4 separate regions of the Homo sapiens genome follow, and all the other regions are linked to region 2. Evidence: fine-mapped expression QTL. A gene starts in region 2. Each other region holds a variant in brackets. All regions are shown on one strand. Distances are between the middles of the regions.

Region 1 (4,000 bases), 23 kb after region 2:
GTTCATACTGATAGAGAAGAGGGCAAGAAAAGATCCAGAGTGGCTGTTACTTTGAAAATTAAACGAAAGATGAAATTCTGAACTTAAAACACTTCTGTTTGGCCTTCTATAACTGATCACCCTTCTTTGCTCTGTTTTCCAGATAAATGGAGACACCAGATCTCCCTAACCTCTGACTTCTGCCGTTAGCCATACTCTGTGTAGTTAGATCTCAGTCTGGGAATGGCATTCCAGGGCAATTGTGAACATGAGGCTAGATTTTTCCTTTGATTTAGCACATTCCTAGGCAGACTTTTGCAAGCTCAAAAAATGAAAATAATATCTGCTTAACCAAAACATAATCATAGGAAGAAGAAAAATTTTAAAATGATTGATTTTTGACTCTACATTCTTTATCTACCATACTGCTCTTTTCCTTTTTAGAAATATTACTAAGCACTTTCCGTATAGATAAATGAAATACAGGCTAATCTTTAGGTGTCTTAGGAATTTTTGCTTTTTGAAAAAGAAAAGCTAATAGCCTAACTGCAGAGGAACTGAGTGGATGGGGTAGCTGCTGTATAGATTTTTAGATGAGATGATACAGTGTGGATTACACTGTACCTTGGGCGGGAGAGTTTGTTCTTGATATGGAATTCATATGCTTTTGAATTGCACTAATAACTCAGCATTAACAAGTATATTACTCCTTAAATTATACATGCATTTTCAATATTCCTAACCAAATAGTTTATAGCTTATTGAGAAGAAGTCTGTTCTTGGAGAGATGTTGAAATTAGATGTTTATTAAACTTTAAAATATAATGCCTTAAGCTGTGGCACTTTAAAAACATCTTTATATATAAATTGCTAAAAGGACTGTTAATGCTTTTCTCAGACACATTGGCATTTTACAATTTTGCACATGGTTTATTTGAAATCAAAAAATAACTATACTTTGTTTTATAAGTCTACCTAATATCTCATTTTTGATTCTCATCGTTAGCACAGTTTTGTTGCTTTTATTAAACTATTTTAACTGAGAAAGTGTCATGTCTGTTTTTTGTTTTGATTTAATTGCTATGCAAAATTTTGTTTTACCAGATGTCAAGTTAATGTAAAAAGAAAAGAAAATAGGCCTCCAAAGACAGATGTCCACAATAGAATGTAAGCATGGTCCTTAGAAACAAGGGTAATTCTTTAAAACTTTCCCCATGGAGTGAAGTTCCTTAGAGGACTGCATCACCACCCAGGTGTCTTATATTCCCTGTAGAAGCCCAGCATGAGTTGAGTTGAGAGGAGATGGGCCCACATGAGCCTGCTGTGGCCAAGTATTGAGTGCTGGTCTCACACTTCCCAGCTCAGGAAAAAGAGCTTTTTCATACTTGAACCATATTTTGCCTGTGGAGGGACCCCCTGCCAGCTTTTTCCACAGCCTACTCTTCTTCCTGAAGTCACAGCTCAGACAGCATCTCCTCAGAGAGGTCACCCACCATGACATCCAAAGTGGCCTTTCCTGAGAACTCCCTAATCTCATCACCCAATTTCCTCCAGAGCCCTCATCACTAACTGCAACTACCTTGTTTATTTAAACCTTCTGTTTCTATCCTCTCTCTCATCTCCACTCCATGAGGATGTCAGGGACTGACTATATCTGATAACTTACCAAGAGTGGATGCCTTATGCAGAGCAGGCATCAGTAAATATGTTGGGCAAATGAAGAATTAAGTGAGTTTGATGGAAGGTGATTATTTGACCCTTTAGGCTACAGAGGTGATGATACAGGCAAACCTGTCATTGTTTTCTGTCTGCTGCCTCAGTGACTGTGGCTTGTGCCACCAGAGTATGAGTTCTGGTGAAATAACAGTAGTGAAACAAGGGGAACACCAAATAATGTGGCACCCTCAAATCTACTTCGGTTTTGCTGCACTGTTTTTAGAAACCAAATTCATTTAAGTAGGGTATTTGTTCATTAGTAAATAATTTGGTATTATCATCATTGAAATGATATACTTTTATATTATTTTATTTATTTTTTTTGAGACAGGGTCTCACTCTGTTGCCCAGGCTAGGGTGCAGTGGCATGATCACGGCTCACTGCAGGCTGAAGTGATCCTCCCACCTCAGCCTCCTAAGTACCTAGGACTACAGGTGTGTGCCACCATGCCTGGCTAAGATATTTCATATTCTTATCAGTTCTT[C/A]CCTTTGTATGAGGGTCAAATAATCAGTTTTTGTTAAGGGAAAAGGCTAATTATCCATAAGACTCTCAGTGGATTGCTCAGCAAAATCCCTGCAGCCAAGGATAGAGTAGGATGATGTATTCAAAATTCTAAAAGAAAAAAACTGCCAAACAAGAATATTGCATTGGGCAAAAATAGCCTTTAAAAATAAAGGATAAAGTCATCCCAAGACAAATGAAACTGAGGGAATCTGTTTGTTACCACTAGACCTGTCTTATAAGAAATACTTAAGGAAATTCTTCAAATTAAAATGAAAACATGTTAAATAGCAACATGAAAACATAAATCTCACTGGTAAAAGAAAATATACAGGGAAATATAGAATAATGTAACACTATAATAGTACATAAATTACTTTTTACCCTAATATAAAAGTTAAAAGATGGCTGGGCCCAGTGGCTCACACCTGTAATACCAGCACTTTGGGAGGCTGAGGCAGGCAGATCATGAGGTCAGGAAATTAAGACCATCCTGGCCAACATGGTGAAACCCCATCTCTACTAAAAATACCAAAATTAGCTGGGCATGGTGGCACATGCCTGTAATCCCAGCTACTTGGGAGGCTGAGGCAGGAGAATCGCTTAAACCAAGGGAGTTGGAGGTTGCAGTGAGCTGAGATCACGCCACTGCACTCCAGCCTGGTGACAGAGCAAGACTTTGTCTAAAACACACACACACACACACACACACACACAATTGTTAATGGATACACACTATAAAGATAATTAAACACTGAATTCAAGGACACAAAGGTTGGGGAGAATGGCGTTTTTGTATGAGATTGAAGTTAGTATCAGCTTGAAATAGACAGTTGTAACTATAAGATGCTTTATGCAAGCCCAAAACATAATCAAATCACAAGGGAAGACAGAAAGAGAGGGAGAAATGAATACAGAGCAACAAAATAACCAGAAACAGTTATCAGACTGGCAATAGTAAGCCTTTACCTATTGATAATTACTTTAACTGTACATAGACTTAACCTCCCCAGTCAAAAGACATAGAGTAACTGAATGGATTTAAAAAGAAGATTCAACTGTATGTTGTCTACAAGAGACTCACTTCAGATTTAAGGACACACATAGGCTGAAAGTGAAGCAATGGAAAAAGATATTCCATGCATATGTTAATTAAAAGAGAGCAAGGATGGCTATACTCATGCCAGATGAAATAGACTTTAAGTAAAAAACTGTAACTAGAGACAAAAAAGACCATTATATAATGATGAAAGGGCCAACTGAACAAGAAGATACAATTATAAATATATACACATCCAACATCAGTGTACCTAGATATATAAAAGCAAATATTGATCTATCTAAAGAGAGAAATGGACAGTAATACAATAACAGTAGGAGACTTCAACACCCTGCTTTCAATAATGGATACAACATCTGCACAGAAAATCAATTAAAATAAAAACAGGTGACTTGAACAACACTATGGACCAGATGGACCTAACAGACAACTATAGAACTTTCCATCCAACAGAAGAATATACATTCTTCTCATGTGTACACAAAACATTCTCCAGGATAGATCATACATTGAGTAACAAAACAAGTCTTAACAAATGTAAAAAAAATGGAAATCATACCAAACATCTTTTCTAACCACAATGGAATGAAACTAGAAATCAAAAACGGTAAGAAAATGAAAAAATTCACAAATATGGGAAAACAAAACAATACACTCTAATAAAGATTGGGTCAAAGAAGAAATCAAAGGGAAATTCAAGAAATATCTTTGGACAAATAAAAACCTAAACACAACATACTAAA
Region 2 (4,090 bases):
AAATACAGTCTTATTCTGAGGCACTGGGGGTTAGGACTTCAACATATAGTGGTGAGGAGAGGCTGAATTCAGCCCAGATTTCCTATCTGCCCCGCACAGCTATTAACCTAGTGAAAATGAGAGATTTAGGAAAACACTACACGTGCAGTTACATCCTGTACAATATAAAAGGGTGGCTGTTGGAGTTGTTAAATTAGTCACAGCTTCAACTATTTTAAAATCATTTATGAATTTAAATTGCTTGTATGGGATGATGTATATAGTGGCTACTGTTTCAGAGAGCAAAGCCCTAGAATCAGATGACATCCAGAATGTCATGTTGAAGATCGTATCTGCAAACAAGTAGTTTAAATTTTTAAAAACTTCTCTTAATTCAAAAATTCAAAAAAAATGAGAAAAGTAATCTCACAAGTAGTGGTTAATTATAGAAGATGAGAGGTGTGGAGGTTTTTTTTTTTTGTTTGGGGTGCATAAGCTTAAAATAACATGAAAAGCATGTCAAAAAGAATATGAGAACAGAGTGGACTTGAAATTTAACATATCCTACTGGCATCACTTGTTTATAGAAAAATAAAATGGATCATGTATTTATTTGAGGACTCACTATGCTTTCTTTGATCACATTTTTATAGGTACAGCGTGGTGTTCAAACTTTTAATGTATGGAGAAAAATGAAACGGCTAGAAAAATGGCCCAGTACAGACAATTCTATGCTCAATCCAACTTGAACAGAAACTACAGGATTTGGCCTAAACAAGACTGAAAGGGAAGCCCTTATCAGGAAAGCCATTATCTGAGAAGATAAAATAAAGTAATACTTTGTTTTTAAAGTATTATACAATTCATATCTAATATTTCAACCTCAGCCTTTCAAGTGTTGTCTAACACCAATAATAATATTGCCACCCCTCCCTCAACCGGTTATCTTCTTTTCATATTTCTAGCTACTTAAATCCACCAAGCAAATTCTGGTTTCGCTATTTCTGGATTTAAGTACATTTTCTAATGCACCCAGGCCACACGCAGGAATGGACACAGCTTTCGCTCTCCGCATAAGTTTTCTAGCCCAGGGCAAGCTCTCAGAACGTGACTCCTCGTGCCTCGCTGCCCGCCCCTCGCTCCCCCCACTCCCGCCATCATCCCTTCCGCAGAGTTGGCTGCCAAGCCGACACCCACAGATTCTGCATTCCACGGCTTCCCAGCATCCTGCTGTCTCTGCGTGGAGGAAAGGGTGCTGCGAATCCCAGTTTAGATAAGGAACCCCGTCTTTTCACTACTACACCGAAGCATGCAGGAATAGGGCGTTGACCCCATTCTCCCAGCTCAGGGCACAGGTGCTAAGGCCGACCCATCTCACGGGCCTGTTCACCAGTTTCCCACACTCAGTACAGATCCTAACACGGTTTATGCACTTCATAACCATGCGTTTGTGTTTGTCAACTGACAAACGAGTGATAATGACAAACGAATGACACAAGGGAAACCAACAGCCAATCAGAGCGCAAGGTTGTGTTGCCAGCATCCCAGTTTCAGGGACAGTCACCGCCAAGCCCGACCCTGCAAAGGGTCGTAACCGGACTTCGGGGCAAACTTCAGGTCCCCCGCCTGCTAGCCCGCCAACCCCCTCCGCCAGGCAGCCGGCGCGCCTCCAGGTTCCGCCCAGGCGTCGCTGAGTGGCGGCGGCGGGGAGAATGCGCGCGGCGCAGCCAATCCGGGGGCGTTCCTACACCCCCTGCCCGCCCCCGACCTTCCAGAGCAGAGCAGGACACTGGCGCCGCGGGTCAGGCAGCTGCGTGCGCGTCTCCTCCAGGCAGCAAGGGGAACCCGAGGCCGCCGGCGCCCGGACCATGTCGTCTCCGGGGCCGTCGCAGCCGCCGGCCGAGGACCCGCCCTGGCCCGCGCGCCTCCTGCGTGCGCCTCTGGGGCTGCTGCGGCTGGACCCCAGCGGGGGCGCGCTGCTGCTATGCGGCCTCGTAGCGCTGCTGGGCTGGAGCTGGCTGCGGAGGCGCCGGGCGCGGGGCATCCCGCCCGGGCCCACGCCCTGGCCTCTGGTGGGCAACTTCGGTCACGTGCTGCTGCCTCCCTTCCTCCGGCGGCGGAGCTGGCTGAGCAGCAGGACCAGGGCCGCAGGGATTGATCCCTCGGTCATAGGCCCGCAGGTGCTCCTGGCTCACCTAGCCCGCGTGTACGGCAGCATCTTCAGCTTCTTTATCGGCCACTACCTGGTGGTGGTCCTCAGCGACTTCCACAGCGTGCGCGAGGCGCTGGTGCAGCAGGCCGAGGTCTTCAGCGACCGCCCGCGGGTGCCGCTCATCTCCATCGTGACCAAGGAGAAGGGTGAGCGGGAGGTCGTGGGCTGTGGGTACGCGGATGCCGCGGATGAGTCTCCAGGTGCGTGGGGGCTGCAGTTCCTGTGCCCCTTCCGGCCGCCCGCGCCCCCAGGCTGCCTCACACCTGCATCCTGAACTAACAGGTGATGGTGGTGGCGGCGCTTCTCCTTTCTGATGCCTTTAAGATCCCATCAAGTAGTGACGGACGCGTGACTTGCTCATACTCCAAGATCATAAGTAGAAAAGTCATCCGGAGATTGAGGGAGAGTAATAGGGATGGCGGAAGGACAAGGTGGCAAGCCAGGTTCCATCTTTCCAAAAGTAGCCTTCCCTTCCACCAGCTGTGACCTCGGAGAGAAACTTTGGCCCCCATGTTAGAAAGAGGGAAGGATATTCTTTTTACCTTGTGGGTTTCGAATGTAAGAATTTAAGAAGATAATTTCCAATAAGATAAAAAGTCCAGAAAACACAGAAGAAGCCTATTACCAAATCTCCGGCTTTGGTTCATAGCCTCTGATTCCTGCGTATGGGAGTCTAAATTGGACATTTTTGGGGGTTGGAAAACGTGTTATCTGCTGCAATAAAATGTCCAATCTAACCTGTCTCTACCGTCCCCCTTTGTCTTACTGGCTGGCTTAGGTCTCTGACTTCTTTTCTGAGTCACTCCTACGCATCAGTCAGGTGTTAAATGCCTTTTCCTTGGGGAAGCCTTTTCTCACAGCCTCTGCAAGTAGGGTAGCCTCCCTTGTTAGAACCAGGTCCCTTGCCCAAGCACTTTTCCTTCACTACACTTTTCAAAACTGACGCTACATAACTTTATGACCTTGGGCCTGGATGTCAGTCTTCACCACTGTTCTGACATCTAGGAGGACAGAGTCATTGCTGTCTGAAACATAGTAGGAGTTCAAGTATCTATTAAATGAATGCTATTTCCTGCCCCTATAACATGGCAAAGAAAGATCTAGGCTTTTCAGAATCTGATAAAGCCAGAGTTTTGCATCAGGATTTTAAACGGAAAAGACAAATATTGTATGATCCACTTATATGAGGTGCCTCCTAGCGTAGTGAAATTCATAGGGACAGAAAGTCTCAGTTTTGCAAGATGAAAAAAGTTCTATGGATGGATGGTAGCAATGGTTGCACAACAGTGTGACAGTACCTAATGCCATTAAGGTGTGCACTTAAAAATGGTTAAGATGGTAAATTTTATATGTATTTCACCACAATTTTTAAAAAAGAAAAGAAAAGCAGGTAGGTTTTCTCCAGGCACCCATGAGCTCAGAAGAGAATTTTAGGTAGAAGCAGTATTACGAAGGCATGTAGTGGATGAGGTGTGAACTGTGACATTTGTTTTTCAGTGGGGCATTTAAAGTATTATGATCTTTATCCCTACTCATTTAAAATCCTTAGATAATGTCTTAGTGTTCATCCATGTTGTGGCATATGTGAAAATTTTCTTTTGAAGACTAATATTCCATCATATGTACAATCATCCCTCCTTATCTGTAGGGGATTCCTTCCAGGACCTCCTGCGAATAACAAAACCCTAGGATGCTCAAGTCCCTGATATAAAATGGTGTAGTATTTGCATATAGCCTATGCATATCCTCTTGGATACTTTAAATCATCTCTAGATTATTTATAATACCTACTACAATGTAAATGCTTTGTAAATAGTTGTTATACAGTATTGTTTAAGGAATGACAAGAAAAAAAGTCTACACATTCAGTACAGATGTGTTTTTTTGATCTGCGGTTGG
Region 3 (4,097 bases), 29 kb after region 2:
TCCTTTACCAGACAAGCTAATGCTAAGAGATTTTGTCACCACCAGGCCTGCCTTACAAGTGCTCCTAAAGGAAGCACTAAACATGGAAAGGAATAACAGGTACCAGCCACTGCAAAAATACGCCAAATTGTAAAGACCATCGCTGGTAGGAAGAAACTGCATCAACTAACGAGCAAAATAACTAGCTAACATCATAATGATAAGATCAAATTCACACATAACAATATTAACCTTTAACGTAAATGGGCTAAATGCCCCAATTAAAAGACACAGACTGGCAAATTGGATAAAGAGTCAAGACCCATCAGTGTGCTGTATTCAGGAGACCCATCTCACGTGCGGAGACACACATAGGCTCAAAATAAAGGGATGGAGGAAGATCTACCAAGCAAATGGAAAAAAAAAAAAAGCAGCAATTCCAATCCTAGTCTCTGATAAAACAGACTTTAAACCAACAAAGATCAAAAGAGACAAAGAAGGCCATTACGTAATGGTAAAGGGATCAATTCAACAAGAAGAGCTAACTATCCTAAATATATATGCACCCAATGCAGGAGCACCCATTTTCATAAAGCAAGTCCTTAGAGACCTACAAAGAGACTTAGACTCCCACACAATAATAATGGGAGACTTTAACACCCCACTGTCAACATTAGACAGATCAACGAGACAGGAAGTTAACAAGGATATCCAGGAATTGAACTCAGCTCTGCACCAAGTGGACCTAATAGACATCTATAGAACTCTCCAACCCAAGTCAACAGAGTATACATTCTTCTCAGTACCACATTGCACTTATTCCAAAATTGACCACGTAGTTGGAAGTAAAGCACTCCTCAGCAAATGTAAAAGAACAGAAATTATAACAAACTGTCTCTCAGACCACAGTGCAATCAAACTAGAACTCAGGATTAAGAAACTAACTCAAAACCGCTCAACTACATGGAAACTGAACAACCTGCTCCTGAATGACGACTGGGTACATAACAAAATGAAGGCAGAAATAAAGATGTTCCTTGAAACCAATGAGAACAAAGACACAACATACCAGAATCTTTGGGACACATTTAAAGCAGTGTGTAAAGGGAAATTTATAGCACTAAATGCCCACAAGAGAAAGCAGGAAAGATCTAAACTTGACACCCTAACATCACAATTAAAAGAACTAGCGAAGCAAGAGCAAACACATTCAAAAGCTAGCAGAAGGCAAGAAATAACAGATCAGACCAGAACTGAAGGAGATACAGGCACAAAAATCCCTTCAAAAAATTGATGAATCCAGGAGCTGATTTTTTGAAAAGATCAACAAAATAGATAGAACGCTAGCAAGACTAATAAAGAAGAAAAGAGAGAAGAATCAAATAGATGCAATAAAAAATGATAAAGGGGATATCACCACCGATTCCACAGAAATACAAACTACCATCAGAGAATACTATAAACACCTCTACACAAATAAACTAGAAAATCTAGAAGAAATGGATAAATTCCTGGACACATACACCCTCCCAAGACTAAACCAGGAAGAAGTTGAATCCCTGAATAGACCAATAACAGGTTCTGAAATTGAGGCAATAATTAATAGCCTACCAATCAAAAAAGGCCAGGACCAGGCGGATTCATAGCCAAATTCTACCAGAGGTACAAAGAGGAGCTGTTACCATTCCTGCTGAACCTATTCCAATCAATAGAAAAAGAGGGAATCCTCCCTAACTCGTTTTATGAGGCCAGCATCATACTGATACCAAAGCCTGGCAGAGAGACAACAAAAAAAGAGAATTTTAGACCAATATCCCTGATGAACATCGAGGCAAAAATCCTCAATAAAATACTGGCAAACCGAATCTAGCAGCACATCAAAAAGCTTATCCACCATGATCAAGTTGGCTTCATCCCTGGGATGCAAGGCTGCTTCAATATACACAAATCAAGAAATGTAATCCATCATATAAACAGAACCAAAGACCAAAATCA[G/C]ATGATTGTCTCAATAGATGCAGAAAAGGCCTTCAACAAAATTCAACAGCCCTTCATGCTAAAAACTCTCAATAAACTAGATATTGATGGGACACATCTCAAAATAATAAGAGTTATTTCTGACAAACCCACAGCCAATATCATACTGAATGGGCAAAAACTGGAAGCATTCTCTTGGCACAAGACAGGGATGCCCTCTCTCACCACTTCTATTCAACATAGTGTTGGAAGTTCTGGCCAGGGCAATCAGGCAGGAGAAAGAAATAAATGGTACTCAATTAGGAAAAGAGGAACTCAAATCATCCCTGTTTGCAGATTATATGATTGTATATTTAGAAAACCCCATAGTCTCAGCCCAAAATCTCCTTAGGCTGATAAGCACCTTTAGCAAAGTCTCTGGATACAAAATCAATGTGCAAAAATCACAAGCATTCTTATACACCAATAACAGACAAACAGAGAGCCAAATCATGAGTGAACTCCCATTCACAATTGCCTCAAAGAGAATAAAATACCTAGGAATCCAACTTACAAGGGATGTGAAGGACCTCTTCAAGGAGAATTACAAACCACTGCTCAACGAAATAAAAGACGACACAAACAAATGGAAGAATGTTCCATGCTCATGGATAGGAAGAATCAATATAGTGAAAATGGCCATACTGCCCAAGGTAATTTATAGATTCAATGACATCCCCATCCAGCTACCAATGACTTTCTTCACAGAATTGGAAAAAACTACTTTAAAGTTCATATGGAACCAAAAAACAGCCCACAATGGCAAGACAATCCTAAGCCAAAAGAACAAAGCTGGAAGCATCATGCTACCTGACTTCAAACTATACTACAAGGCTACAGTAACCAAAACAGCATGGTATTGGTACCAAAACAGAGATATAGACCAATGGAACAGAACAGAGCCCTCAGAAATAATACCACACATCTCCAACCATCTGATCTTTGACAAACCTGACAAAAACAAGAAGTGGGGAAGGATTCCTTATTTAATAAATGGTGCTGGGAAAACTGGCTAGCCATATGTAGAAAGCTGAAACTGTATCCCTTCCTTACACCTTATACAAAAATTAATGCAAGATGGATTAGAGACTTAAATGTTAGACCTAAAACCATAAAAACCCTAGAAGAAAACCTAGGCAATACCATTCAGGACATAGACATGGGCAATGACTTCATGACTCAAACACCAAAAGCAATGGCAACAAATGCCAAAATTGACAAATGAGATCTAATTAAACTAAAGAGCTTCTGCACAGCAAAAGAAACTACCATCAGAGTGAACAGGCAACCTAGAGAATGGGAGAAAATTTTTACAATCTACCCATCTGACAAAGGGCTAATATCCAGAATCTACAAAGAACTTAAACAAATTTACAAGAAAAAAATCAAACAACCCCATCAAAAAGTGGGTGAAGGATATGAACAGACACTTCTCAAAAGAAGACATTTATGCAGCCATGAGACACATGAAAAAATGCTCATCATCACTGGCCATCAGACAAATGCAAATCAAAACCAAATGCAAATCAGTGAGATACCATCTCACACCAGTTAGAATGGCGATCACTAAAAAGTCAGGAAACAACAGGTGCTGGAAAGGATGTGGAGAAATAGGAACACTTTTACACTGTTGGTGGGACTGTAAACTAGTTCAACCATTGTGGAAGACAGTGTGGCGATTCCTCAAGGATCTAGAACTAGAAATATCATTTGACCCAGCCATCCCATTACTGGGTATATACCCAAAGGATTATAAATCATGCTGCTATAAAGACACATCAACACATATGTTTATTGCAGCACTATTCACAATAGCAAAGACTTGGAACCAACCCAAATGTCCATCAATGATAGACTGGATTAAGAAAATGTGGCACATATACAACATGGAATACTATGCAGCCATAAAAAAGGATGAGTTCATGTCCTTTGCAGGGACATGGATGAAGCTGGAAACTATCATTCTGAACAAACTATCACAAGGACAGAAAACCAAACACCGCATATTCTCACTCATAGGTGGGAATTGAACAATGAGAACACTTGGACACGGTGGGGAACATCACACACTGGGGCTTGTCATGGGGTAGGGGGAGGGGGGAGGG
Region 4 (4,097 bases), 35 kb after region 2:
ATGTTGCCCAGGTTGAAAGCAATCTTGAGAAAGAATAATAAAGCTGGCGACATCACACTTCCTGATTTCAAAAGATATTTCAAAGCTACAGTAACCTAAGTGCGATGGTACTGACATAAAAACAGACATATAGATTAACGGAACAGAATAGAGAGCCCATAAATAAATCCATGCATTCACAGTCAATCTTCACTAGAGTGCCAAGAGCACACAATGGTGAAAGGATAGTCTCTTCAATAACTAATGTTGGGAAAACTGGATATTCACAGGCAAAAGAATGAAATTAGACCCTCATCTGACACCATAAACAAAAATAAACTCAAAATGGATTAAAAACTTAAACATAAGACTCAGAACCGTAAAACTACTAGAAGAAAGCATAGGGAAAAAGCTTTCTGACATTTGTCTTGGCAATAATATGTTTGAATAAGATAGCAAGAGTACAGGCAACAAAAGCAAAAATAGACAAGTAGAATCACATCAAATTAAAAAACTGCTGCCCAGCAAAGAAAAAAAAATCACAGAGTTAAATAACAACCTATGGAATGGGAGAAAATATTTGTAAACCATATATCTTACAAGGAGTTAATATCCAAAATATATAAGGAACTCACACGAGTCAATAGCAAAAGCAAATAATCCAATTATAAAATGGGCAAAGGACCTAAATAGGCATTTCTAGAAAGAAGATATACAAATGGCCAACAGGTATATGTAATGGTGCTCAACATCACTAATCATCAGGGAAATGCAGATGAAAACCCAATGAAACATCACCTCATAACTATCAGGATGGCTATTAATCAAAAAGACAAGAGATTAAAAGTGTTGACAAAGATGCAGGAAAAAGGGAACCCTTGTACAGTGTTCATGAGAATTTATATTGGGACAGCCTTTATCAAAAACAGTATACAGGGTCCTCAAAAAATAAAAAATAGAACGACCATATTATCTAGCAATCCCTCTTTTGGGATATACCCACAGAAATGGAAATCAAGATTAAGATCTTGAAGATTTATCTGCACTCCCATGTTCACTGCAGCATTATTCACAACAGCTAAGATATGAAAAGAGTGTAAGTATCCACTGATGGATGAATGGATAAAAGAAAATGTGGTGTACACACACACACACACACACACACACACACACACAATGGAATATTATTCAGCCTCAGGAAAGAATGAAATTTTGCCATTTGCAACAACATGGATGAACCTGGAGGATATTATGCTAAATGAAATAAGGCAGACACAGAAAAACAAATACTGCTTGATCCCATTGATGTGTGAAACCTAAAATAGTCGCACTCATAGAATTATAAAGCGAATGGTGGTTGCCAGGGGCAGTAGGGAGGGAGAAACGGTAATGCTGGTCAAAGGATAAAAAGTTTCAATATGCAGGATGAATACGTTCTACAGATCTAATGTACAGCCTGGTGGCTATGATTAACAATATTCCTTACTTGAAATTTTCTAAGAAGTAGATCTTAAATGTTTTTGCCACAAAAAAAGATAATAATAAAAGAAGAAAAAGAAAATGGTAACTTGGTGAGGTGATAGATATGTTAATTGGTTTGATTGTGAAGACCATTTCACAATGTATACATACATCAAAACATCAAGTTGTATACCTTAAATATGTACAATTTTTATCCATCAATGTTCTTCAATAAGGCTGTTTAAAGAAAAAAAGAAAAAATCCAACTCTTAAAAAAATAATAGAATCAATCAGAAAACTAAAACAGCATACACTTAATGACATAAAAATAGAAAACTCTTGTATTCCAAAAAACGGCTGGCAAATCATGAAAAAATGTTTGTATCAGCCTTGCCAAAAATTCAATATCCTTAATATATAAAGTGCTTATAAGTCAGTGCTTATAAATCCATATATACTATAATATATAGTATCTTTAATATTTTCATATACTATAGCATAGTATTTCTTCTAGTGAACTGTAAGTGCTATAATTCAGTAGTAGAATACCCTAATTTTAAAAACAGGCAAAAGATACAAATTATTGTGTTAAACTTTTAAGTTCAGGGGTACATGTGCAGGTTTGTTACATAGGATAACTGTGTCATGGTGATACAGGAGTTAAGAAGAAATCACTTAGGCAGATAGTGAGGGTACAGAAGTCCTCGGTAAGGCTTTTCTCTTTAATGAAAAGCAGCCCCAAATCATTGTCTAACAAAGAGCAGCCTGTAAAGTCAAGCGGCAGACATAGACGAGGAAGCTGGGAGCTTGCAT[G/A]GGTGAATGCTGGCAGGAACTAGGGGCTAGACATGTTTAAGATGGCAGCTTCATCTTCCCTTCTCTGCCAGCCATGTGTACAGTAAGAAGCAGACAAGATGGCTCAGATCAACTGGAAAGCCCATTTGCATAATAAGATTAGGGTGAGACAACCGGCCTTTCCCCATCTGCTATGTAAATGTCATACCTGATCGAACCTATCTGTGAACCCTTTGTAAATCAGACACTGCCTCCTCAAACCTGACTATAAAATTCAATGCCACCTGCAGGTCTTTTCCATTCAGGGACCCCACTCTCTCTATAGAGAAAGCTGTTTCTCTTTCTCTTCTCTTCTGCCTATTAAACCTCCACTCCTAAACTCCTCTTGTTTGTCCATGTCTTAACATTTTCCTGGTGCACGACCATGAACCCCAGGGTATATACCCCAGACAACATAGTCACTTCTATGGGGGTTTATTGTACAGATTATTTCATCACCCAGGTATTAAACCTAGTACCCATTAGTGATTTTTCCTGATCCTCTCCCTCCTCCCACCCTCCACCTTGAGATAGGCCCCAGTGTGTGTTGTTCCCCTCTATGTGTCCATGTGTTCTTATCATTTAGCTCCCACTTATAAGTGAGAGCATGAGGTATTTGGTTTTCTGTTCCTGCATTAGTTTGCTAAGGATAATGGCCTCCAGCTCCATCCACATCCCTGTGAAGGATATGATCTCATTCTTTTTTATGGCTGCATAGTATTCCATGTTGTATATGTACCACATTTTCTTTACCCAGTCTATCATTGATGGGCATTTAGATTGACTCCATGTTTTTGCTATTGTGAATAGTGCTGCAATGAACATGTGTGCATGTGTCTTTATAATATAATGATTTATATTCCTTTGGGTATATATCCAGTAATAGATTGCTGGCTCAAAAAGTAGTTCTGTCTTTAGGTCTCTGAGGAATCACCACACTGTCTTCCACAATGGTTGAACTAATTTACACTCCCATCAACAATGTATAAGCATTCCTTTTTCTCCACAACCTCACTAGCATCTGTTATTTTTTTATTTTCTTAACAGCCAATCTTACTGGTGTGAAATGGTTTCTCACTGTGGTTTTGATTTGCATTTCTCTAATGATTAGCGATACTGAGCTTTTTTATATAATTGTTGGCCACATGTATGTCTTCTTTTGAGAAGTGTCTGTTCATATCCTTTGCCCACTTTTTAATGAGATTGTTTGTTTTTTCTTGTAAATTTGTTTAAGTTCCTTATAGACTTTTGATATCAGACCTTTGTTGAATGTAGTTTGCAAAATTTTTCTCCCATTCTGTGGGTTGTCTGTTTACTCTGTTGATAGTCTCTTTTGCTGTATAGAACCTCTTTAGTTTAATTAGATCCCATTTGTCAATTTTTGCTTTTGTTGCAATTGCTTTTGGTATGTTTATCATGAAATCTTTGCCAGTGCCTATGTCCTGAATGGTATTGCCTAGGTTATCTTCTAGAGTTTTTATAGTTTTGGGTTTTACATTTAAGTCTTTAATCCATCTTGAGTTAATTTTTGAGATATAATTTTTTTTTTGAGACAGTCTCTCTCTGTCACCCAGGCTGGAGTGCAGTGGCTCAAACTCGATTCACTGCAACCTCCACCTCCTAGGTTCAAGCAATTCTTGTGCCTCAGCCTCCCGAGTAACTGGGATTACAGGCACGTGCCACCACCCCCAGCTAATTTTTATATTTTTAGTAGAGACAAGGTTTCACCCTGTTGGCCAGACTGGTCTCGAACTCCTGGCCTCAAGTGATCCACCTGCCTCAGCCTCCAAAGTGCTGGGATTACAGGCATCAGCCACCATGCCTGG

The links. PIP is the estimated chance that this variant, and not a neighbour inherited with it, causes the effect.
Region 1: its variant is the best candidate, but not a certain one, in a credible set for the expression of CYP2U1 in cerebellar hemisphere (GTEx, PIP 0.72).
Region 3: its variant is the best candidate, but not a certain one, in a credible set for the expression of CYP2U1 in whole blood (INTERVAL, PIP 0.56).
Region 4: its variant is the best candidate, but not a certain one, in a credible set for the expression of CYP2U1 in ovary (GTEx, PIP 0.79).

What each region holds. Positions count from the first base shown.
Region 1 is chr4:107,952,440-107,956,439 of GRCh38, forward strand. CYP2U1 (cytochrome P450 family 2 subfamily U member 1) reads left to right here. Exons shown (of 5, transcript NM_183075.3): 5 at 1-1,022. The region is part of intron 1 of LOC107986298 (a long non-coding RNA gene); the gene reads right to left. Among named protein-coding and RNA genes, the nearest start is that of CYP2U1-AS1, 22 kb to the left of the region's middle. The variant C/A (reference allele first, on the strand shown) is at 2,181.
Region 2 is chr4:107,929,797-107,933,886 of GRCh38, forward strand. CYP2U1 (cytochrome P450 family 2 subfamily U member 1) reads left to right here and starts at 1,753. Exons shown (of 5, transcript NM_183075.3): 1 at 1,753-2,337. The coding sequence starts at 1,848. It overlaps CYP2U1-AS1 (CYP2U1 and SGMS2 antisense RNA 1), which reads right to left and starts at 2,323. Exons shown (of 7, transcript NR_125929.1): 1 at 2,175-2,323. All of the region lies in intron 1 of LOC107986298 (a long non-coding RNA gene), which reads right to left. LOC124900751 (a long non-coding RNA gene) reads right to left here and starts at 1,789. Exons shown (of 2, transcript XR_007058221.1): 1 at 1,177-1,789; 2 at 1-107. RefSeq lists enhancers at 1,123-1,630, 2,291-2,360, 2,421-2,490 and a silencer at 1,491-2,080.
Region 3 is chr4:107,958,591-107,962,687 of GRCh38, forward strand. The region is part of intron 1 of LOC107986298 (a long non-coding RNA gene); the gene reads right to left. Among named protein-coding and RNA genes, the nearest start is that of CYP2U1-AS1, 29 kb to the left of the region's middle. The variant G/C (reference allele first, on the strand shown) is at 1,975.
Region 4 is chr4:107,964,730-107,968,826 of GRCh38, forward strand. The region is part of intron 1 of LOC107986298 (a long non-coding RNA gene); the gene reads right to left. Among named protein-coding and RNA genes, the nearest start is that of HADH, 23 kb to the right of the region's middle. The variant G/A (reference allele first, on the strand shown) is at 2,254.